Homo sapiens: one gene and its partners. The protein of the gene in region 4 interacts with the protein of the main gene of each other region in a biochemical or structural test. Each region holds a gene or a part of one and is shown on either strand. Other genes may lie near its edges.

What was found.
Region 1: the proteins of SNAP23 (region 4) and KIF5B form a complex in vitro, tested with the Homo sapiens proteins (one study listed by BioGRID).
Region 2: the proteins of SNAP23 (region 4) and SCGN form a complex in vitro, tested with the Homo sapiens proteins (one study listed by BioGRID).
Region 3: the proteins of SNAP23 (region 4) and VAMP7 form a complex in vitro, tested with the Homo sapiens proteins (one study listed by BioGRID).

The regions. Positions count from the first base shown.
Region 1 is NC_000010.11:32,032,397-32,039,433, forward strand, and holds part of KIF5B (kinesin-1 heavy chain), read right to left. Parts: intron 7,036-7,037; coding exon 6,931-7,035; intron 6,431-6,930; coding exon 6,382-6,430; intron 5,823-6,381; coding exon 5,767-5,822; intron 5,212-5,766; coding exon 5,124-5,211; intron 4,983-5,123; coding exon 4,858-4,982; intron 3,599-4,857; coding exon 3,494-3,598; intron 3,272-3,493; coding exon 3,126-3,271; intron 2,443-3,125; coding exon 2,294-2,442; intron 1,643-2,293; coding exon 1,449-1,642; intron 379-1,448; coding exon 310-378; intron 1-309. UniProt on the Homo sapiens protein: Microtubule-dependent motor required for normal distribution of mitochondria and lysosomes. Can induce formation of neurite-like membrane protrusions in non-neuronal cells in a ZFYVE27-dependent manner.
Region 2 is NC_000006.12:25,647,870-25,655,215, reverse strand, and holds the start of SCGN (secretagogin), read right to left. Parts: upstream 3,002-7,346; 5' UTR 2,813-3,001; coding exon 2,731-2,812; intron 1,835-2,730; coding exon 1,764-1,834; intron 1-1,763.
Region 3 is NC_000023.11:155,940,318-155,944,279, forward strand, and holds the end of VAMP7 (vesicle-associated membrane protein 7), read left to right. Parts: intron 1-1,565; coding exon 1,566-1,634; coding exon of another isoform or gene 1,635-1,822; 3' UTR 1,823-3,452; downstream 3,453-3,962. UniProt on the Homo sapiens protein: Involved in the targeting and/or fusion of transport vesicles to their target membrane during transport of proteins from the early endosome to the lysosome. Required for heterotypic fusion of late endosomes with lysosomes and homotypic lysosomal fusion.
Region 4 is NC_000015.10:42,505,598-42,512,634, reverse strand, and holds part of SNAP23 (synaptosomal-associated protein 23), read right to left. Parts: intron 803-7,037; 5' UTR 789-802; coding exon 732-788; intron 1-731. UniProt on the Homo sapiens protein: Essential component of the high affinity receptor for the general membrane fusion machinery and an important regulator of transport vesicle docking and fusion.

The DNA of each region.
Region 1 (7,037 bases), on a different chromosome or scaffold from region 4:
TTAAAGGACTGCTTTTCAATTATCCCCCTGCTCTGCTGGGTGAGAAGATAAAATGAGGATCCAAAGTAAGTGACAAGAAGAGAAATGTCAAGAACCAGGGTGAAAAAAAAGATGGCGGAAATGAACAACAGATTGTATCTGGGTAGATACGATGAATAAGTAAAAATTCACTTTATCCATGTGACATTCTTATTCCCACAAAGACAGTCATACCCAAAATTATACAACTATTAAAGACAAAGTCAATGGGATTCAGAAAACAAAACTATAAAGCTTTTCTGGAAGCAATGTAAAAGGTATTCAACTCACCTCCTCCTGATCCAACATTTGCGTCTTCAGTTTCTCTACCAGTTGACTTTGCTGGTTAATTTCTTCATCCTAGAATTGTGAAGTATCCGGTTAACCAGTAGCTAACAACCTGGTTCTAGTTGTTTCCCAATACAGGTTATAAGATTACTACTCCCCAGAAATATTTCAAAACCATTTCTCTAAATTCAACATTGCTTATTTTAATCTCTTTTAAGAAAATGGCAAAACAAAAGGAATTTCTTTCAATTATCAATACTTATAATGGTCATGTACTTCGAACCTGCCATCTCTGCTTAAAATATATTAAAAATATCAACTTAAGAAAATATTTTCTTCTAATCTCTTTACTACTCTTGTTCTTGCCTTCCATTCTATTACGTTCTTAGTTTGCTATTATTCATACTATTGACATTACTTCTATATGCAAAGCAGGAAGATATTATTTCCACTCTATTGTGTTTCCCTTAATCTCTCACATCATCTTTTATTGGAGTCTTCAGAGCCCTGATTCTAACAATTGGTATCATTGAGGCTCCCAATGACCCAATGCCAAATTTTCATTAGAACAGGGGTCCCCAAGCCCCCAGGCCACAAAGCAGTACTGGAAGCCTGTTAGGAACCAAGAAGCACAGCAGGAGGTGAGCAGCAAGCATTACCACTTGAGCTCCGCCTTCTGCCAGATCAGCAGCATTAGAATATCATTAAGAGCGCGAACTCTATTATCAGCTGTGCATGCAAGAGATCTAGGTTAGAGGATCCTTATGAGAATCTAATGCCTGATAATCCAAGGTGGAAGTTTCATCCCAAAACCATCTCCCCGACCTGATCCACGGAAAAACTGTCTTCCCTGAAACCAGTCCCTGGTGCCAAAAAGGTTGGGGACTGCTGCCTTATAAAGTTCTTTTAGCTTAAAAAGAGGGGGAAGAAAAGATACATGCTCATACAGTTTCCACACAGAAATTGAAATTATGACTTTTTATTTTGTTAATACAATAATTTTTACAAGATTAACAGAAATCAAGGAAGATGCATAAAGATCCTAAGTGCCCACAGCACTGAAATGAGAAAAGTTAGAAAATAAAAACACCCATGTCAATAGTATCCTAATATAAAGCAGACCTAAATCAAGCAATACCTACCTTGTCATCAAGCTGTTTGTATAATTTAGCAATTTCTTCTTCACACTTTCTTCTTTCAGCATCAGTAAAATTTCCTATAACTCCAATTGCGGTTGCTGGTTTATCATTGGTAAGAGTAATATCTTTATCCACTGTGAAAGCTTCCAAGTTGGCTTTCTCTTTGTCAAACTGTTCATCAATAGGCACCGTCTCCCCTAAAATAAGAAAATAAAGTGGTTAATAAAAAAACGACGTCTAAAGCTAATTTCAATTTCATTCCTTTAAAAATTTTTTTTTTTTTTTTTGAGACAGAGTCTCAATCTGTCACCCTGGCTGGAGTGCAGTGGTGCAATCTAGGCTCACTGCAACCTCTGCCTCCAGGGTTCAAGCAATTCTACTGCCTCAAGACTCCTGATTAGCTGGGATTACAGGCGCTCAGCACCATGCCAGGCTAATTTTGGTGTTTTCAGTAGAGATGGGGTTTCAACATGTTGGCCAGGCTGGTCTCTAACTCCTGACCTCAAGTGATCTGCCCACCTTGGCCTCCCAAAGTGCTAGGATTACAGGCATGAGCCAGTGCACCCAGCCTCGTTCTTTCAAACTTTTTCTTCTCTGTGTTATTTTCAAATAATCTGTCTTCAAGTTCAGATTCTTCTGCTTAATTAATTCTACTACTGATGGTCTCTTGCATTTTGCTCATTTTATTTTTCAGCTCCAGGATTTCTATTAATTTTTTTAAAAATTATTTCGATGTCTATTAAATTTCTTGATCTAGTCACTTACTGATTTTGCTGAACTATTTCTACGTTTCTATGCTCTAAATCTGTATTTAACAAACTGAAGATGACAAATTCTTAAGTTATTACCATTACGCCATCTGTTGAGCTCATTTTCAAGCCACTGAATAGTGTTCCGCAGGATCTTATTTTTTTCTTTTTCTTTTTCATACTTCTTTTTCCACTGTTCTGCAGTTAACTCCACATTGACACAAACTGTGTTCTTAATTGTTTTGGCCCTAAGAGATGTAATTGGAGGAAAAAAAGGATGAGACTGAAATTATTTTTAATTTTATCTATATGGAATATATGTATATATGGCTAAGAAACTTATGCTTGTCCAGTAATCTCTTAGACTAAATACTAAAAGCCGCAACATATGACGTTATTTACAACTCAACTAAATTTGAGTCTGCTCCAAAATCTGTGAATAGCTTTAAAAAAAAAAAAATCAACAAACCACTAAAAATAAAAGACAAAGGCCTATATTTTTCCAATTTGTTTGCAAGGCTGAATTAAGAAATTACTGTTGAAAGTCAAAGACGGAATCATCATTACTGATTTTCCTAATCATCTCATACAGATTATATTAACCTGTCATGCATGTCTACAGGCTTAACAGAGGATTATGTTTGCCAGGCTTTGACCTCATTATTTGATTCAAATGCTTATTTTCTTTAATACCAAATTACAGCTTGTCACACAAATTTGACTAAAATTACATCTGACTTTAATGTGTACTAAAACTTAAACCAAGCAGTCTAAAAATCAGACCCACCTTGTATTATCTGTCATCAATTCAAACTGAGTGTGTCTAGCACAAAACAGTATGTACAGGTTGGAATAACAGCTCACATTTTCCTACATTTTATAAACAAAAGGTCTATCTAAATTTAGGTTTTGTACTTTCTTAACAACAAACCTTTGGCCAAATAAGAGTGTAGATTTTGTTTCAGACTCATTGTATGATGATGGAGAGCAGCAAATTACAATAGTGGTTCTACAGTTGCCACCTAATGAATCTTGAAGGATTCTTGTCATTTTACTATCTCGATATGGAACATATGTCTGCATACAAAAACAAAGAAAGAAAACAAGACCAGTATAATAAAATGTTATTATAAAATAAACTCCCAAAAGACAACTAACTTACACATACTGATTCAAACACATTGAATCTCAATCTCTCTTTCTCTCTCTCTCTCTCATACACACCCAGGCACACATATACACCTATATTTAAATAATGCCCCATAAGGTAACAGGGAGATAGAAGACATGTATACTCACACTACCCTCAGCCAAAGCAGAAATAACATTTCCAAGAGCAGAAAGTGACTTGTTGATGTTTTTAGCTTCATCCAGCACAGCACCTTCAGCTCCAGTTTTACTAACCTATACATAAGATTTCAAAAGAATGAAACAAAATTACAAGTTTATAATTTTCTTTACATTTTCTAAAATGTTCATATGTCATCAATAACCAGTAAAAAAGAAAAAAGAACATGAAAAGCTTCATGATCTTATTTGCCAAGCATACCACCATTTCTTGAGTACTACTCTTAAGAGTTTGATTAGAGAGACATCAAATTTTATCTGTAGTTTGTAGGTACTCTTGAAAATAACCAATTTAAATGTAAATTTGTAGTTCATTAATCTGTTAGTCCCCTTTGCTACATTAGAAAACAGGAACCTTCTAAAATTGGCTAATGCATAATGTTGATGTTGTAACTGTTAGAAAACAGAGACTGAGTTTTAAACACATTATATAAGCAAATCTGCTTCTTTTAAAAATATATAAAATATCTAAATATCTATGTTGTGGTGTTTTTTTTTTGGAGACTGAGTCTCACTCTGTCACCCAGGCTGGAGTGCAGTGGCTTGATCCCAGCTCACTGCAACCTCCGCTTCCCGGGTTCAACCAATTCTCCTGCCTCAGCCTCCCCAGTAGCTGGTATTACGGGCATGTGCCACCATGCCCAGCTAGTATCTATGTTAAAGATAGGTCAGAACAATAAATTAGCAATGTTGGCTGAAGAAATAGCTTAGGAGATTTCTCAGATTAGATAATCTTTGAAAGATGTGTGTAAGACTTCAGAGTAGAACGGAATAGATATATCATTCTAAGCAGAAGAAACAAAATTAGCACAACAGCAAAAATGGTCAGAGGTCCCTATTATAACATTCAAACTTAATTTGATATAGACTAGAATCAGACTGTATAGAATTGTAATAATGAAACAATAATCCAAAGGAAAGAAATAAGTCCAACCAAACCAGAAAAGACTAATCGAGAGTTACCAGTTTTAATAGGGACCCCACTGCCAATATGGATAAAATACGTATCAAAAATTAGAAAAGGGATATCTAATAAAGTTTATAACAACATATGCTGAACCAGTTCTCACTATGAACATATCTTAAGTCATAGAAACCACTTATGGGTTGAACTAGAGTATGGTCAAACAACAGTAACTTGGAACTGATTATTCAGCTGATATCATCATAAGGCACTGGCATCAGCGGTTACAAATCTCAGGTTACCAAATCCAGTTTGGTAAGTAAGATGCAACAATGAACCCTGCGTAACTCCCAACTCAAACTAAAGTTTACAAAGATGCTTAAATATTTGTCAAAATACATGAAGACTTTACCTTTTCACTACCAGCTAAATCAACCAGATAAAGTTTTCCACTCAGCTTTTGTTCCGTTTGTGTGTTCTCTTGTTTGACATTAATAAGAAATATACTGTGACTCCTAGAGCTATGTTCATTCATATCTGCAAGGAAATTACACAAACAAATATAAACAAACATGATTTCCCCTTAACAATTTCCCTGAAGCAATCTTATAATTAATCACCTGGATAAGGATATTTTAAGCTGGTTTTAAATCCTAACCAGTGTTATTTTCTACTTACTTGTAACTGCTACATGTCTGTTGGATTTTCCTTCATCTATGGTATCCATAACTTCATCTGGACTACATACAAAACGCTCTGTGCACCCCTGTGAAATAATTTTTAAAAATATGTTAATGTCTGGCCAACATGATGAAACCCTTTCTCTAATAAAAACACAAAAATTAGCCGGGCGCGGTGGCGGGTGCCTGTAATCCTAGCTACTTGGGAGGCTGAGGCAGGAGAATCGCTTGAGCCTGGGAGGCAAAGGTTGCAGTGAGCCGAGACCATGCCATGCACTCCAGCCTGAGCAACAGAGCGAGCCTCCATATATTAAATGAATTGGCTCACGCCTGTAATCCCAGCACTTTGGGAGGCAGAGGCGGGCGGATCACGAGGTCAGGAGTTCAAGACCAGCCTGGCCAACATGGTGAAACTTCGTCTCTACTAAAAATACAAAAATTAGCTGGGCGTGGTGGCGCATGCCTGTAATCCCAGCTACTCAAGAGGCTGAGGCAGGAGAACTGCTTGAACCCTGGAGGCAGAGGTTGCAGTGAGCCGAGATTGCACCACTGCACTCCAGCCTGGGCGACAGAGTGAGACTCTGTCTTAAAAAAAAAAAAAAAGTATTACAGGGTTTTCTAGACAACTGTACTATAAATACCTTTACATAGGGAACTCGGTTTTTGTCTTCATGAACTGAAAGGTTGGTCTTTGAAACTGAGAAAGAAAAACAAATGTTAGCAACATTCTCCTAAAACTCTTAACACTGGATATGAAATAACTGATAGGCTTTCCTGAGCAGCCTAACAGCAATAGTTGAACTCTAAAAACATATTAAAACATTGCTCTAAAGCAGACCTTACAGACACAGCAGGAGATGTAAATAGAAACCAATGCAACAATATAGAATTTTAGGACCACTCCAACCTACCACCCACATTTTATAAACAAGAACATTAACCCTGAATGGTTCAATGATTTGCCTAAGGACAATGTATCTAATTGACAGTTGACAGAAGACTAGAACTCAGGGCTCAGATTATGTAACTCCCAGTCCAATGCTCTAATTACTACTAAGAAGTACCCATAAACATCGCTTTAAACTAGTTATTCTATTTAAAGGTATTCAACTAAAACTTTAGAAGAAAAAAAATTTTGTCTATTTCCAATAACTTAAGACAATTTCATATAGGTTACAAAGAAATAGTCTCACATCTATTATTAAAAAGGAATTAACAGATGTTATTTAAAACTGATTAGCAAGAATTTAACTTACCATCTAACAGGTCCCTTATCTTATCCAAATATATTTCAAAATATGAAACCTAAAGGGCAAATTTAAAAAAACACCGATCAACTAAAGTTATATAACTTATTCGCATATTGAGGTCTGAGTGCTAGGCATTGTTTAGACTAGAGAGACAGTTATCAACATACCAGCCATAGCTCACATTCTAATGGGAAGACATAAATTAGCCAAATTAGCTTAGTTATTTAAGCAGTCTTCCCATTGGACATAAATTACATTATCTTCATCTAAAATGAATTAGAATAGTTTTATGTAGTAGAAACCTTCAAGTTCTGCAGTAAAGCAACCTCCTTTATTTTTTGAAGGAGGCTAAAGACTTAATCATTTACGTTAGTTAACATTCCTGTTCATCTAATGGCAGATGAACAAAAATCCAAGTTTACTAACCTGAATGATCTTTCAACTGTACCTTTCCAGAAAAACAATTTTTAAAATTAAAGAAACCAGCATTTACTATTTTTTTAGAACATTATTCTTGCTGTAAAATAAAATATAATCTTTCCTCAAGGAATTTACCTTAATATGAAATTCCAAATTTTCATCCATGGAGTAAATATAATTAAAAATATCTTGCACTATTCTTGGAATAATTCCCATGCCTTCTGGATCATGAAGTTTACCCT
Region 2 (7,346 bases), on a different chromosome or scaffold from region 4:
CTGAGGACAGATTTTTAGGAGCTGGCCATCCCATTTATTCCAAGATTTTGAATGGTTTTAACTTTGTCTTTTTGCTTTCCTCAAATACCCATGTCCATGATAGATAAGATGGGTTTCTGGAACACGATGAACCTTACATTTACAGATATAAGTAGAAGCCCTGTGGGCAAGGCTGGTGGGCTTCACCATGGGCTGCTAGCACGTGAAAGTGGCTGGCTAGATTGAAGCAGAAGCCTCACTTGGGGGAGGCTTCCTCAGCTCTACCTGTAGCTTGTGTAGGTACAAGAATGAAGGATAAAGAGGAGTGTGCGCAAGTGGTCTGACCAGAGGAAAGAAGGGACTTGTGTCTCTATCCTTCTCGTCTGCTGATCCTTTCACTTCACAGGCTGCACAGGGTAAGGGGTGGAGTGCAGGCAGACAAAGAGCAATAAAAGGTACAGAAAAAGGGAGATAAGAGACAAAGAAAAGGGTGAAGGAGAAAATGTGGAGAAAAGAAATGAAGGTCAAAAAGAGAGATGGGAAAGAAAGAAGAAAGGAGAAATAAAAGACATGGGGAGAGGAAAGACCAAAAGAGCTTTGAGAAGCAGAGAGACTGGAAAAAGAATGGGAAAACACAGAGACAGAGAGATGGAGAAACAAATGAGAAACAGAGACAAGAAAGATGGGCAACAGAGAGGTCAGAGAGAAAGGCAAGAAACAGTAGGAGATGAGAGCCATGAAACACAGAGATAAGAAACAGAAGTGAGCAGAAAAATGACAGAGATAGACATAAAAAAGAGAGACAGACAGAATATGAGAGGCAGACAGAAGTAGAGGGGGACCAAGAGATCTGTGTGGCTGAAGAAGGCGGAAGCCAGCCCTTTTGTTTCTGAACCAGCTTCCCCTGCCCCCCACATACCCTCCCCATGTTCTCAACAGTGGTGAAGAGCTCCTTGTTCCCTCACTGAGCTCTCACATGAGAATGTGATGCACTTCTATTCTTCAGATAAACAGCTGAATGATAAGGACAAACTATCTCCATCATTCATTTAAATTCAATTGTCCCTAGAGCGTCTCCTTCTACTATGAATGCCCTACTGGAGCTTTCATCAGATCGAGCCCATCCCCAGGCTGTCCTCCGCTCATGTGTTTCTGTGTAAAATTTTTCTCTGCTTTGATAGAGAGACTTTCAAGAGTTCATTTACATCTCCCAAGGACATATTTACCATCAGATGGACACTAGATAGATTGGCTTCCATTTGTATCTGGGCTCTGAGTATGCTGGTTGTTTTCTGGTTTGTCATTCCCTGAAAAATCTGTAACCTCTTCTAATAAAATGAATAATGGATAAATGATTTTAAATGGTTTGTGGTTTGCTATCAGAGGAGTATCATACATATTAAACACCCAAAATCTTAATGTGCTTAACATCTTTTCCAGCTTTTTGAACAAAGTGGGCTACTTTACCCCCAGGTATAAATCAATTAGCAGAGACATAACCAAGGAGACGTTCAAGACCAAGTTAACTGAGTCTACAGTTAGGATCTCTGAGTGGATGACAGATGTTACACTGAAAGTCAGTAACCAGCATGTCTAATGCTACAGTTGCACCTTTTATAAAAACTGCCTAAATCCCTCTATGTTGCTAGGAGAGGGGGAGAAATTACATACATGCAAGGAAGAAAGGAGGTGAGTTGGAATTAATAGGTACCAATCAATATAAGACTTGGATGTGCGTATCTTACTAAGAGGCATAAATTAAGGCTTAGTGTGCAAGTACTTACATCAGTACCCAGTTTCATCAACATGTGGAGAAAGAAAGCATCGAGTTCCTTCTCTTCTATGTAACCTTTTTCTAAATGTGAGAAAATAAACATAAATAATACTAACATATAAAAAACACATGACAGTATTTATCTAAATATGTTTTTAATCTCACAATTCATAAAGCTTCCCTCAACACTATTTTTTGTTATTCCAATAACAAAGTGCCAACACCTACCTCTAGAATACATGGGTTTGAACAGTAAACACTGTTCCAGAATACGTGCTTTATGCTAGGGTTTATATTAGTGCTTGGAAAAGGAAGGCTATTAAGTACATGAATTTTAATCAATGAATAAACGTGAACTTTCCAATAAAATTTAACCCCAAAATTTCTGAAGCTTGGAGAAACTTAACAGGTGTAAGTATTGAATCCCAGTTTGCAGAGTTAAAACACACCTTTTAGATATTTTATTTCTTTATTAATAAAAACAAATATTAAGTAGTTCCATTTTATTTTCAAGTAGTTTTTTGGTGGAGGAGTCGTTTTGAAAGCTGATAAAATTTATTCTCATTTTGAGAGAGTGAGGGGTGTACAGCAAAGTCACTGCGTAAAAGTGAGCCCATTTAGGGAAGGATGACTTCAAATAGCTGAGTCTCAGCCCACAAGCCTTGAACATATACAATGATATTAGTCATTGTATATACAATATATATGTATGTCTACCATATATATGGCGCGCTCGCACACAAAGAGAGATTGGAAAGGGGAAAGTGGAAATTCACCACCCAGAATTTTAACAAGGTATATAGATGTGTATCACCAGTATGCCAAACGTCTGTTAATGATACTGTATTAGGTACACTGCATTAACAACCCAGGTCGATAACTTTTCCTACAGTAAAGGGGAAACTCCAGGTCCTTTCAGCGGGCTGAGCTTGGAGCCACGTCTACACCTGAGTGTGCAAGTGGCTTGTTCTACTCACCATCCGCATCAAAGCGCTGCCAGACCTGCCAGAAGCCAGCGGCGTCCAAGCGCCCCAGAGTCGGTTCCCGGGAGCTGTCCATGGTGTTGACGACGAAGACCAGGCACCGGCGCGGAAGGACCTAGACAACTTTGGGAAGGACTCCTTCACCGTATTTCTTGACTTGCTCTCCTGCTTCTTTCGCTATCTGATTAGCTTTGAGTAACTGTTGCTGGGGAGGACGCGAGCGCTGCTGGCCGTGGCGTCGCTGAGCCGTCCCTCAGCCCTCAGCAAAACCAGCGGCTGGAAGCCCGCCCCGCTCCTGGCGCGCCTGTCCCCGCCCCGCCCTGCGCGCTGTCCTGGCAGATCCTGTCTGTCTCTGCGCTTTGGGGAATTCAGGAAGAAAGAAACTGTCTCCAGGCGTCCACGGCTCACTGCTTTTGCCCTTTAACTTGCTTCTCAGACTCGGAGAAGACATCCCTCTTACGTTTGACTCACTTTCCAAACTTGTGTCTCAAGGGGTTTTCTAGGGAGAGCTGCCTCATTTAAAGGGTTGCAAGAAGTGTCAGTGTTAGGGTCCTTTGGACTTGAGGATTTAGAAATGTAGTGTGTGGAGAGGGGAGGCGAGAAGGGATGGTGATGGTGGTAAGTGGTTCCCTTTAAGGAAGAAGTCAACAGCAATTATTGAGTCCTGATTGTATAGGACATACACATTGCTGTACCAAAATGCACTATAAGGACTTGCAACTAAACAGGGATACTGCAAGTCACTGTGATTTAAAGTAGCATCATTAGGATGCTGAGGAAAATATAAACTAAGCCGTACTCTGCCAGGAAAAGAGAGTCTGGGGGAGATGTGTCTGCCTGCAGGGTACTTAGGTAGAAGGCTTAGATGATTGTGTTTGGCTCCTAAGAGCCACATTAAGACCAAAGGATAAAAATCAGTTGGAGGAACACAGAGCTTTCTAACAATCAGGACTGTTCAAAATTGGGCAAGGCTTTGTGGAAACGTGTACAAACTACACTGATACCTTTTGACTATATATTTAGAAATTTTCGTTGGATAATCTATAGAAAGTGCTTGGATATTAGATAAGAAAGTTGAACCAGATGTAACTTTTCTTTATGGCACCCTGACTCTGGTTTTAGCATTCAGATTTATTTATAAAAAGCATGCATGTATAAGTCATCTAAACCAGAGTAGTGAAAAGAACATGACACTCAAGGTCAGATAGTCCTGGGTCAGGATCTGAGTTCCATTATTTACCAGCTTTGTGAACTGCACCATTAGTTCTCATCTCCCTAAGCCTCAATTTTCTTATCTATAAAATGAGGATTAAAACATCTGTTTTGGAGGGTTGCTGTGAGGATCAGAACCATACATAGTAATGCACAATGAATTATATCTGCTATGGTGTTGTAGCTGATGAGGGATGACTCTGTTAGAGAAAACAAGTAAAGTCTAAGAGATTGTCATAGCCAAGAGGAACCTAATGAAAAATGACAAAGAAATGTAATGTTTTATCCTGGGTGTGATGCCGGAACAGAAAAAGGCCATTAGGTAAAAATTAAGAAAATTTTAATAAACACGGACTTTAGTTAATAATAATGAAAAAAATGGTTCAGAAGAAAACAGTTCTGGGTTCAGGGCCCAGCTTTGCCTCTTACTAGTTGTGTGTGATATTGGGCAAGTTACTCAAAAGAAGCCTCACTTTCTTTGTAAAATGGGAATAATAGTAGTATTTACCCCGTGTTATTATCATAAAGGTCAAATTAAAAAATCATATAAACCTATTGTCACAGTATATACAGTAACATTCAGTGTAAGTTAGCTACTAAAATGATGAATCTTCCATACATACATACATATTTGGAAGACGGTGAAGTAAACTTCAGGATTTTTGAGGAGTGTGGCTTAGCCTAAAGGAAGAAAAGCAGTATTATCACCGATTAAGCAAGTGCTGGTTACAAAAATTGGAGAAAAGCATATGTAGCATAGGAGGGTGTAAGGGTTCAGTATCTGTAATTATCATCTGTGACTTTAGGAAATTAGTGGATACAATGTCAAGCACCAGTTAGGAAAAGTAATTGGTATGAACCCACCAGGGCTGATCTTGTTTTCTGATAAATAGTGGAAAAAGATAAAACAAGGCAGATTTCAGAAGTAATAATCAAGATCTAATGTGGAGGGATGGTTAAATAAATGATAGTAAATATCTATGATGGGCTTTGCTGCATACACAGAAATCTTGATTTTGAAGCTTGATGATCCAGAAAACTCAAAACATAAGGTTAAGATTAAAAAGCAAGTTACAAAAGTGTACATATATGATGACTCAATTCTGTAAAATAAAATACATGTTTCTACACATAGAAAACATGGAAGATATACATTAATGACATTAATGATATGTTTCTCTGGAGTGGGGAAGAGGGAGGCTCACAGATGATTTCAATTTTGCTATTTGTAATTCTTTTGTCTTAAAACTTTGTGCAGTAAGCATATAATGCAAGCTATTATACTTTTTTAAAGTTGTAAAAGTGAAATCTAGGGAAAGAAGAGGAAAAGTACAGCCGCAAAGATTACTGTTCTCAGGACTGGAGAACAAACAGAACTTGGAACACTTTCCAGGAGCCTGTCATCTGGAGCTCTCTGGGGAGCTGCAATCTCCATTCAATGACTTATTTCCTGTTTTCTTTGCATCCAAATATTTATCATGGCACTGGGTAGGGAGATACTGCTTAGGAATCCTGCATTCCCTCATAAAAGTTTCTCTTTGAGAAAATCATCCAAGCCCTTAACAGAGAAGAGAGCCAGTAGGAAGGTATTTAAAGATCCTACAGGAGACACCTGTAAGACTGTCTCATTGGGAAAGTTCTCCTGCCTAAAAATGGAGTGATGGAGGTGGGGATGAAAGAACCAGAGGTGGTTTATCAGAGTCCCTTCCTGTCCAAAAAGAGAACTCAGAGTAAAGCAAATATTCAGCAGCTGGAATCAAGTTGAAATACATTTTGCATCTTATGGATTAATTAGCACCTTCCACAGAGATTCTGATTTAAATGGTTTGGAGAAAGACCTCTATGCTGATATTTTTTTAAGTGTTCCCCTAGGGATTACACTAGAACCACTGACGAACCTTTTGTCTATAAGTTTCCTGCTGCTCATATTCTGGTCATTTTATTATTTAGGTATGGCATCTCTGAAGGATAATCGAGAAAAGAAAAAACTTCTAAAGAATTAACATTACTTTCTTATTAATACACTGCCTCTTTCAAAGAGAGGTTAGAATTTATACTTATATGTAATCCTGGTAAGTTTTGACAATTGATGGCTGAAACTAGAGACTAAAATCAGTTGTTTTTCTTTTTTCCCTACTGATTTCATTTTCTCCTGCAATCATTTCCTGCTTTTCTCATTAGCATAGCTAATTGATGGTTAGTTGCACAAGAAGAGGCAGTGGTCTGTAATTTGAAGCATTGCTAATTAACTCTGATGCATCCATTCAATTTTAAGCTAAAATATCTGCATCTTTTTACAAACTCAGAATGATATTTCTAACTGGAAATATAAACAATACTCATCTTCATATGTTGTTGAACATTCAAGCTCTGTAGACATCTCACAGACTGTATAGTAGACCTTAGAATTCAAAGAGACAGCCTTGGTTTAAAGCCACACCAGTTCCAAAGGGCCATGCAAGCAGAACAAAAGAAATTGGACAGTGGTTTTCATAAGATAATAAGAAAACACTAGAAATAGAGTTATTTTTAAAATATATACATTTTACTGTTTCCTTTGCAATCACATGAATAGTACAGATAATTTAAACAATATAGATTAGAAAAACTACAAAACAAGAAAGAAAACTTTCTTCCATAATTTTGACATCTAGAGATAACTAGCAATAATAACATATGGGTTTATGTCCTTACAGTAATTTTTTATATGCAGAAAAAGTAGATTATACTGCTCTGTAACTTGCTCATTTCACTTAATATTATGAAGCATGTCATTAAATATTCTTCTATGATATTATTTTAATGTCAGTATTATCATAATTTATTTAATATCCTCTTTTTAGACTTTTCAATTGTCCCTAGGTTTTCACTATCATAAACCTCTGCTGTTACAGCTAAATGTTTGCACACTCTAGTAATTATTTCTTCGGGATAAAGTTCTAAATGCACAAGTGCTGGGCTAAACAATGTATAACATCGTAAGTCTTTATAACATAAGGTTAAAAGTGGTCTCCAGCTGAATTTTACTGATTTATACTGCTATTAGCAGTGGAAGAGATACCTTTTTACACCATTACTAACAATAAAAATAAAAATCTTTGAATAGTTTAAAGTAGTAGTTAATAGTGATTTTATAGGTGGTTGTTTGGGGTAATTTGGGATTTTTTAAGAGGTGGGCTAAGTGTTAAAGTTAAAAGCCTATCACACTCAAGTGGCTCTTCAAAATTTCTTGTCCTCTCTCCCCTTCCTACCCCACAGAACATAGCATCTGGCACTGTGTCTTGCAAACAGTGACTATTTAGTATTCTATATTACCCCAATGATACCATCTTTTCTTAAGGAGTTGATATCACTAAATTATGAAAGAAGATTTTTGTAACCTGTACTAAAGCACAAAA
Region 3 (3,962 bases), on a different chromosome or scaffold from region 4:
TCATGTCCAGAAGCCCAAAGTTACCTCCAAGCAGATAACTCTGACCCTGCTTCTCCTCTACCACAGCTTGAGGGTCCTCTGCCTTAGACAGCTGGATTTATCTAAAAGAGAAGAGCAGTCATAGATCTGTAGATTTTATACTGGAAGTAATTGTCATGGCCTTGAATGGTTCCTTGCTCAGGTTTCTCTTTCTAATATCACATTTTAGGCTCCTGAGCTTAGCTTCTTACTTATTATTTGGTCTGGGAGTTTAGGTTGATTTGTGCAGCTGAATTGTTAAATTCAGAATATATTTACTGATTACTTATTACATGCAGAGCACAGCTCTAAATGCAATATCAATCTTTGCGAAAAGGTGTTGTCACCTAACGAGATGTACTTCAGCTTGAAAAATCCTTATATTACAGCTGTGACAAATAGTCAACTTTACATCAAGTTGGTAAACTTTACATTTGTGGCATGTGTATGTGTGAGTATGTGTGTGTATGTGTGAATATGATGTCAGAAGTTCAACCTATTCATTAATAAACAGAATTTGCTGTAATCTGCCCCCCAACCCTGGCAATATTTATAGTTCCCTACAAGGCAAAATGCTTTGCTCACTTTTGGAGCAAAGGGCATGCAATTCATCAATGCATCCTTTTCCAAGCTTGCAAATAATGAAATCAGTCACTTAAAGATCTCAAAAAGTTGTAATTTAAAGCAAAATAAAGCCAGGCATAGGGGCTTATGCCTGTAATCCCAGCACTTTGGGAAGCTGAGGCAGGAGGATTGCTTGAGGCCAAGAGTTTGAAGCCAGCCTGGTCAACATAGTGACACCCTATCTCTACAAAAATAAAAAATAAAAAATAAATAAAATAAAGTGACTAATGCAGTGAACCTAATGTTTAAAATCTATTTTTTGTGATATAATAATGTGAACAAGTAGTGACTTTTATAATATAATTTAAAATTATAATCTAGAATTAAAAAGCAAACACATCTGTAATAGCACCAGTATTTTTGCAGTGTTACTTACATCATCTGCTTTTCATTGTTTTGGTCATCGTAATTATTGTGTCATTATCCACTGAACAGTTCGTAGCAGTGTTCTTGCTCATAAGTGATATAGATGAAAGCCTTCTACTCAGGCTTTTAAAATATATTCTTATATTAATCAAAAATAAAATTCATGTGCAAAACCTAAAAATATAATTAATGAAACCATACTTCAGGAGAATTATGGTTATTTGTGATTTTTTTATGACTTGTTAATGACACATCAGTATGAGTTGCTCATTTAGCCTTGATTCTGCCGAGTTACCAGTGAAGAGCAACAACCCCACTGCTTTCTCTCCCACTGAAGGAAACGCTAGAGTTCAAGTGGGTGTGAGTTATACCAAAAACGACAATGTTAACTACACTTCTGTCTTGGAAAATACTTGTTTAGTGTGTTCCATTACTACATAACTGCTACTCTAATGGAATCAGAAGTATTTCTTAATAAGGCTCTACTTTCCTATATATATTATTTAGAATAATATGATTGATTCAAGAAAATAAAATTGCTCTCCTCGTCCCTCCAGGTGTTCATCTATATCATTGTTTCACCTCTCTGTGGTGGATTTACATGGCCAAGCTGTGTGAAGAAATAGGAAAGAAGAAGTTACCATTAACCAAGGATATGAGAGAACAAGGAGTTAAAAGCAATCCATGTGACTCAAGCCTTTCACATACTGACAGATGGTATCTGCCAGTCTCTTCAACCCTCTTCTCACTTTTTAAAATCTTGTTCCATGCCTCCAGGTTTATCTTTGTCTTATCTACCAGTTTATTCCTGTGAACTTCAGATTGAACCATTCATTGCAGCAGTAGCCTTAAAAAGGCTTTTGTTTATTTCTTTGGTTTGTTAACTAGTGTCATCTATTTAGAGAAACATTTTTGTTTTTAATTGCTCAAAGCTGTCGCCGCTAGTCTTATGAGCTATCTACTAAAACTATGGAGAAACTTTGTATGTGCACACAAAAGTATTCAAGAGACAGTATTGCTAACATCTCATCTTAATGTCTTTTGTTATTGAGAAGTTTTAGGTGCTTCAAAACAATATAAATGGATAATAGTTGTTATTTGGGGAATTGTAATGATGTTGGTGCTGCTTCCTTCTAAGAGCTCAGACAAGTAAAGTATGAAACATTCTTATTTCAGTTAGATGGGGAACATTTTGCTAGCCCATTAGAAGCACACAGAATTATCCTTGTCCTCCTAATATTGACTTTCAGGAATAAAGTTCAGTGTGCTGATCATTCACAATACAGTGGATAGCTTGATATCTTCTGTTTTCCCATTGCAGTTGATTTGAGAAGATGAAGGTTTAAATATTGTTGAAAGTTGCAGTTTTTTAAATGTGTTCCTTTTTCTTCTGTGAATATTTAGGGCAATCGTGTCGCTAATAGAATATGTAGTAGAGGGGGTGGGGAGGTAAATTCCTCTGACTTGCCAAAGAAAAAGAAGGGAACCACAGTGGATATGCTAGCATTTTAGCTGTGCAAAGGGAGGTAGTGTGGGAAAAGTGTTTCCATTCTGGGAAAAGCCCAAACCGAATACGGTCAGCAGTCAACTCCAGGGTTTGGGCTTGATTCCTGTTGAATAATAGTTTTGAGCATTCTTTGTGGTTAAATAAATTCTTAAATCTGCCTAGTTTTGATGAATTCTTTTGTGAAACTTGAAAGAGAATAGACAGTATGACATATAGAATTAATACAAAACAGTTTAACAACCATTTAACTGCAGTGTAAGAAAATTGGACTGTAATCATATCGCTACTGGCATCTGTTATCTAGTATGCATTTCTGGTGTGTATCTGAAAGGAAGACATTTTCTACCCTAGATCCAATTGCATTTATTTATCAATAAGTGCCATTAAATTGAAATTATATTACATTTTACACTTTCTCAATGAATGAACAAATTAGTCTGTAGAATCTAGCCACCTGTTTAGCCTAGTCATGTGCCTTGAACATATATGTGTCCCATAATCTGGCTCATGGTACCTGTTCTTCTATCCAAACCTTTCAATTCATGCTACCTGATTCATTTATTTGACATAGATCTTAGGCCCACTTGAACTCTTTTCTTGTTTATCTAGCATAGCACAAACGTTTTTCCAGTCTTCTTTATCAACACTAATGCCTCTTAATTGCATCAGTATTTCCTATTGGAAAATACATCTGTTCCAGAAAAACATTTGGCATTCCTGAATAATTTCCAAATGTTTTTAATCCAAAGAAAAAGGTTTAAAGCTTATTTCCCTTTCTTATACACACCTGAATAAAATTGATGTGCATGTTTTAGGGATCAATTACCTAACTGTTCCTTGGTCTATTTATGTATAAGAATGCTTTTTAAAGCACATGTCTCATTTTAAATGACGCACAAACTGAAGATGTTAATAAAATTTAAGAGTAATACAATGATTTGCTTGTTTTAGAAGTTCTTTCTGGAACCTAATTTCTTCTGATGACATTTGCCATTGTTTACAGAACAAAAGTATTTTACTTATGCGGAAAATATATTAAGAAGTGTTACCTGGAGACTTCCAGTAAAGATCTGTAGCATAGTCTCAGGTGTGTAGAATTTCTTCAAAAGACACAAATGAACTTAAAAAATATATAGCCCATGCTGAAACCAATGAAAGATTCTGAGATGATCACACAGCCTTCACAACTATCGTCCTGAGTGCATGATTTAGACAGAACTGAAAAAGAACCCCAGGGATTTTCATCCAGTTTAGCACAATTCTGAAAAATCTTTCTATCTAAAGTTAAATGACTGGTTCTGAAAGAGACTCAAGCGGAAGGCATAATGGTGGGAGGGAATAATTCATTATAGCAAACAGGGTACCTAAACAGAAATAAAAGAAAAACAGGCACAAATCAAATATACAAATAGATAGGTCACAACAAAATAATCAGTCACTTGGGACC
Region 4 (7,037 bases):
GAGGCTGAGGTGGGCGGATCACGAGGTCAGAAGTTTGAGACCAGCCTGCCCAACAAGGTGAAACCCCATCTCTACTAAAAATACAAAAATTAGCTGGGCGTGGTGGCACACACCTATAATCCCAGCTACTCAGGAGGCTGAGGCAGGAGAATCGCTTGAACACAGGAGGCAGAGGTTGCAATAAGCCGAGATCGCATCACTATACTCCAGCCTGGGCAATAGAGTGAGACTCCGTCTCAAAAAAAAAAAAAAAAAAAAAAGTAAGTTGATCACTACATTTTTAGTTATTTTCAGGCGCTCCTTAAGAGAAAATGTGTAAGGACTTCCAGTGTGATGTTGAAAGAAAAAGTTTTTTTAAAAAAGAGAATATTTGGATGGTGAAGTTCATGGGAATAAAAATTTAATGTAGGTAGAAATCTAAGTAAATTACAGATATTAGGAAATTGTTAAATAGAAGTCTAGCATTTCTCAAATACATAGTAGAGTATCTTTGTTACACTTAAGTAATATTAATAATTACCTAAAAAATAAAAATCATACAAATTGTTTTCACTTTAGTTTTCTGGTGAGTTAAAAAGAAAATAAAAACCAGCAATGGCACTAAGGAGCAAATGTGTTCTTTGATATTAATGGACTAGGAAGAGGCCAAAATGTCCCTAAGAAGGCTCTCTCACTCCTCCAATATGAAAACTGAAATAGAATTATTTACTTATTTTAGGTAAAACATTTACCTCATCAGTAATCTGGTGAGCTCTCTGTTGAATTTCTTCTGATGACAGATTATCCATGATGAATCAAAACTCTATTAGGCACAGAAATGGAAATGTGGATATTGTATAAGAATAAGGATATATAAAAGTTTGTGTGAGCAAAAAGTGTAGATTTATGGAATTTAGGAACTTATCAGGAAAACAGGATAAAAGAACCTCTTTCTATATCTATTAGTCTACCACAAGTAAAGAAATCAAGACCGAGAGAGGCTAAATGAATGTTTAATAAGAGTGCCAAGGGTGAACCTAAAATACAGGTTTTAGGACTTCTAGGGAAGTACTCTTTCCAACAGGAAAGTGGATCCTCTACTTAGAGAAGCAAGGCATTACTGGAAGACAAGCATTAAAAGACTATTAAAGTGAATTTTTGGTTGTTCAATGTTCTTCATGTGTTGTCTGAACATGGAAAAGCAGTAGGTGAAGAAAAGTCCAATTTAGTAAAGTAACAAAATTTGAAGTTATGTGCCTGAAGAACACAGGAAACATTTCTAAATATGCCAGTTGTCCAGGACACTCACTGGAGAAAATACTTTCACTCTTAACAAGAAAAGGGAAATGCTGGTACAAACAGCTCGGAAAAGACTAAGGTTTTTATTATGCATTAGACTCTTCCCCTCCAGTGGCTTATATTGTTTTGTTGTTTTACTGGAGTCCCTAAGAAACCAAACAATTATTCTCCTATACACAGTAACTCAGAAGGAGATCTCATAGACATCCAAGCTAAAAAATAAAACATTTCGTAGGTGTTACTCAGCACGGCTGTTATCTAATTCCTCTTTGAGAAGTCATGTGGAGTAATAACAAGCATTGTGCAACGGATCTAGGTTCTTTGTTACATTTGCTAGCTTTGTATGAATTTTCTCAAAACTCATTTATCAAAACTCACGGTCAATGACACAGATAAACTCTGGTTCTTATTACAGATTTGACCCCAGGAATCTGGCAATGTCTGGAGTTGCTTGATTGTCACAACTTGGGCCAGGTGATGGGGCTGGTTAATGGCATCTAGTAGGTAGAGGCAGGGAAACTGCTTAACATCCTACAACACTCTTCAGGAAAGCCCTCCAGCAAAGAATAATCTGACCCAAAATGTCAATTTGAGGTGAGAAACCTTGCCATGGATATACTCTTTGATAAGCAGAAAACTTAATTCCCCAAGAATGTACTGGACTGAATTCTTGGAAGGCAGAGATTTTATCTTTGTATCTCTAACACCTAATAGGATCTGATGGTAGATACTCCAAAAATAGCTGAATGAACAAATAAGTAGAAAAACAGGGTGTACTCTCAAAGTATTTACATGGCTCTTAGAAACAAAGCTGCATGTAACAGTAGCACAAAGCTCGCAAAGAATCACTAGAGCCACAAACCAAAAACTGCTATTGCAAGTGTATGATATGATCACATATAAATCTTTTCAGTCATTTTTGGCTGGGTGTGGTAGCTCATGACTGGAATCCTAGCACTTTGGGAGGCTGAGGTGAGTGGATGGCTTGAGCTCAGGAGTTGGAGTTCAGCCTGGGCAACATGGCAAAACCCCATCTCTACCAAATATACAAAAATTAGCCAGGCATGGTGGCGCACACCTGTAGTCCCAGCTACCGGGGAGGTTGGGGTGGGCGGATTGCTTGAGTCCAGGAGGTTGAGGCTGAAGTAAGTCAAGATCATGGCACTGCACTCCAGCCTGGGTGACAGAGCAAGACCCTATCTCAAAAAACAAACAAACAAAAAAATTTAAATCTTTTCAGTTGTTTTTAATTGAACCACTACTATCATGTTATTTTTTTTATTTTTTTGAGATGGAGTCTCACTCTGTTGCCCAGGCTGGAGTGCAGTGGTGTAACCCTGACTCACTGCACCTTCTGCCTCCTGGGTTCAAGCAATTCTCCTGCCTCAGCCTCCCAAGGAGCTGGGATTACAGGCATGCACCACCACGCCCCACTAATTTCTGTATTTTTAGTAGAGATGGGGTTTCACCATGTTGGCCAGGCTGATCTCGAACTCCAGACCTCAGGTGATCTATCCACCTCAGCCTCCCAAAGTGCCCAGATTGCAGGCCTGAGCCACCGTGCCTGGCCTTGTTTATAATTCTACTGTCATAGCTGTTTTATGGTTTAAGATTTTGAGGGCCAGGCGCAGTGGCTCACGCCTGTAATCCCAATACTTTGGGAGGCCGAGGCGGATGGATCACGGGGTTAGGAGATCGAGGCCAGCTTGATCGACATGGTGAAACCCCGTTTCTACTAAAAATACAAAAATTAGCCGGGAGTGGTGGTGAGCGCCTGTAATCCCAGCTACTCGGGAGGCTGAGGCAGGAGAATTGCTTGAACCTGGGAGGCAGAGGTTGCAGTGAGCCAAGACTGTGCCACTGCACTCCAGCCTGGGTGACAGAGCGAGACTCCATCTCAAAAAAAAAAAAAAAAAGATTTTGAGCCTTGATTAAAGCCATTAGTGCTCATGAAAAAAAGCATTTTAAGTTCCAAATTTAAGTTTCTATCTTGCTTGCCATAGACTGTGCTTCAGGCAAAAAGTTTCCACACTAAGATATAATCAAGATATAAAGATATCATTCATTAGATACAAGCATAAAAGGAACCAGGTATTTTATTAATTTGCTAATTGTTTGAGTCTTAAGCTTTATCATACATACACATGTCCATGCTACTGTTCCTCTTTTGTCACTCTTTCCTATTTGCAACTACAAAAAGTAAATGGAGATTATTTTTTGTACCCTCTCACCTCCACACTTTTGCACACCTTTCCTTTCTATAATACCCCACATCTGCCCAGGTAGCCTCATGCTTTTCCATCACTTCCTAAAGCCCCAACCGAGATACCTCTCCAAAGCCTGCCCTCCCCAGGCAGTAATGCTCTGAAGTTATCTATTCCTGTCATGTGTAACTCCTCAATGCCCGACAGAGAAGAAAATATGAAAAATAATATACACTAATCCATTAGTGCCTGGAAAAGGCACCCTTAGTGAGGTTTTCAGATATAGTATCCTGTGGGTCGGGAGACATTCTGGGGTAAGGAAGCCCAAATATCACAAATTATGTAATTTTGTAATTCTATTCCTAGAGGTGATTATTGCCAATTACAAGTCAGTCTTTGCTAGCTTCCTAGGAAAAAAAAAGCAAAACTCCAGAGTTAGGAGTGAATGCACTCCTGACCTCTGTGCTGCCTTCTTTAAAAGAAAAAAGAAAGCAGATATAACTGGGAGATGGATAACGTGAGGAATCACCCCTGACATCGCAATGAGGTCATTCTGAAGGACACATCCTTTCCATGTGAACTCGAAGTTCTGCTTAATATTTTTTTCTTCCCTGACCAGACAACACGCAAGACAAGTAACAGATATCTACTCCCAAGTTTGGCATGCTAACGCCAGGATGCAGCTGCCTAAGATTACTCTGTGTTCTTGAGGGTTTTGAGCACAAGTTTAGTGTGGCTGTCGCTCAGAGGGTTGGATTCAGTACTGCCTGTGGATACCAATTGGCCCTGAGGAACCTGCAGATATAAAAGTCCGCCCTCTGTAGACGGGAGTTTTGCATGTATGAATACCGTATTTTCTTTTCTTTCTTTCTTTCTTTTTTTTTTTTTTTGAGGCAAGGCTTCACTCTGTCATCCAGGTTGGAGAGCGGTGGTGCAATCAGGTTCACTACAGCCTTGCCCTCCCAGGCTCAAGCAATCCTCCCATTTAGCCCCCTGAATAGCTGGGACTACAGGTGCATGCATCATGCCCGGCTAATTTTTAAGCTGTTTTATAGAGACAGGGTCTCACTATGTTATCCAGGCTGGTCTCAAACTTCTGAAACTTTTGGGGTCAAGCAATCCTCCCACCTCAGCCTCCCAAAGTTCTGGAATTACAGGGATGAGCTACCGTACCTGGCTGAATACCATATTTTCTATCTGCATTTGGTTATAGATGTGGAACCTGCTGATACGGAGGGCTGATTGTATTTACTGAAAAAAAAATTTACCTATAAGTGGACCCACGCAGTTCAAGCCCATGTTGTTCAAGGGTCAACTGTATATGAAAGTAACAGAGTCAAAGTAGAATTGTAAGGGGAAGGACAAAGACAGACAAGGAATAATACTCCTCAAGTTCTTATTGGTCTTTGTAAGTTTGCTGAGACGAGTCAGAGAGAATGTAACCTATAATTAGCTACATAGCCTTACTCATATTTATTATTCTCTGCAGACATTTTCCTTACGGAATCAGGAAAAGGTTACCCAGAATATTACAGAAAAGAGAACTGGTGGGGTGGGATGAAAAATAAAACATCAGTTGATACAAAGATGCCATTAAACGTACTTTTCTCAGATTTAATCTAATCTATTAAATACTTGTGTCATTTTTCCAGTGCTGCTGGGAACTTATACTATGCTAATAGTGTGCCTTTCAGAGGAAAATGCAAGATTTTTCTCAGTGCTTTTACACCCTATTTCTCATGCTATGGTTCACTTGGGCTTACTAAAAGACTCCTAATTTGACCTTTTTCTTTTCTAATTTAAACCTAGGCAGGGAAAGAAAAGTTCACTGAGTACCTCTTAGGCACCAGATACCCTACTAAGTATTTATCTACATCATTATCTTCATTATACTATTTTACAGATGGAGAAACTAAGGCTCAGTTTAGGTAACTTACCCAAGGCGGCTGTGTCAGTAAAGAGCAGATTGATTATTCAAGTCGGGATCTACTCGCAAATTAAGTATAATTCATGGTCTGATAAAGAGTCTTTCTGGAGCTGGGAGTGGTGGCACACGTCTGTAATCCCAGTACTTTAGGAGGCCAAGGCAGGAGGACTGCTTGAGGCCAGGAATTCAAGACCAGCCTGGGCAACATAGTGAGACCCGTTCTCTACAAATAATCAAAAAATTAGCTGGGCATGGGGCGCATGCCTGTAGTCCCAGCTACTCAGGAGGCTGAGGCACAAGAATCACTTGAACCTGGGAGGCAGAGGGTACAGTGAGCCGAGATGGCATCACTGTGCTCTAGCCTGGGCAACAGACCAAGACCCTGTTTCCAAAAAAAAAAAAAAAGTTTTTTCTGTTGACTGTATCCACCGCCCCCTTAACAAACAATAGATCATATGAGAGCTGCTGAATATTGGAAAATAGGTCAAGCAATCCTATATGATGGCTCATTTCAAAATTTCAGATGCTTTCTATAAGACCATGAAATTTTATCTCTTCTACAGACTCAAAGAAGACAGTTAAATTGAAGGAGAAATAGACCACAGTAATCATGGTTTTCAACTGTCTTCTATTATTTCAGAAGCTGAAAATAATCTACATTAATTTAGAAAATGAAAAGAAGTCTATTGGCTAGGCACAGCGGCTCATGCCTGTAACTCTGGCACTTTTGAGGGCTGAGGTAGGAAAACGGCTTGAGGCTAGTTTGAGACCAGCCTAGGCAACACAACAAGACTCTGTCTCCACAAAAAGTAACAACAAAAATAGCCAGGTGTGGTGACCAGTGCCTGTAGTCCCAGCTACTTGGGAGACTGAGTTAGGAGGTTCACTTGAGCCTGGGAGTTCAGGGCTGCAGTGAGCCATGATCCCCACTACACTCCAGCCTGCCTGACAGAGCAAGACCCCAAAGAAAGAAAAGAAATGGGCCGGTCACAGTGGCTCACGCCTATAATCCCAGCACTTTGGGAGGCCGAGGTTGGCGGATCACAAGCTCAGGAGTTCAAGACCAGCCATTGCCAAAATGGTGAAACCCCATCTCTACTAAAAATACAAAAATTAGCCAGGTGTGGTGGTGGGCGCCTGTAGTCCCAGCTACTCGGGAGGCTGAGGCAGGAGAATCGTTTGAACCCGGGAGGGAGTGGTTGCAGTTAGTCGAGATCATGCCACTACACTCCAGCCTGAGTGACAAGAGCAAGACTCTGTCTCAAAAAAAATAAAAAAGAAAGAAAAAAAAAGAAAAGAAAAGAAAGAAGGAAAAGAAATGGAAGGGAGGGAGGGAGGAAGGGAGGAGATAAGAAAACAAGCAAGCAAGAGGCCAGGTGCGGTGGCTCACGCCTGTAATCCCAGCACTCTGGAAGGCCAAGGTGGGCAGATCACCTAAGGTCAGGAGTTCAAGACCAGCCTGGCCAACATGGTGAAACCCCGTCTCTACTAAAAATACAAAAATTAGCCAGGCGTGGTGATGCACACCTATAATCCCAGCTACTCAGGAGGCTGAGACAGGAGAGTTGATTGAACCCGAGAGGCAAAGGTCGCAGTGAGCCGAGATCATGCCACTGTACTTCAGCCTG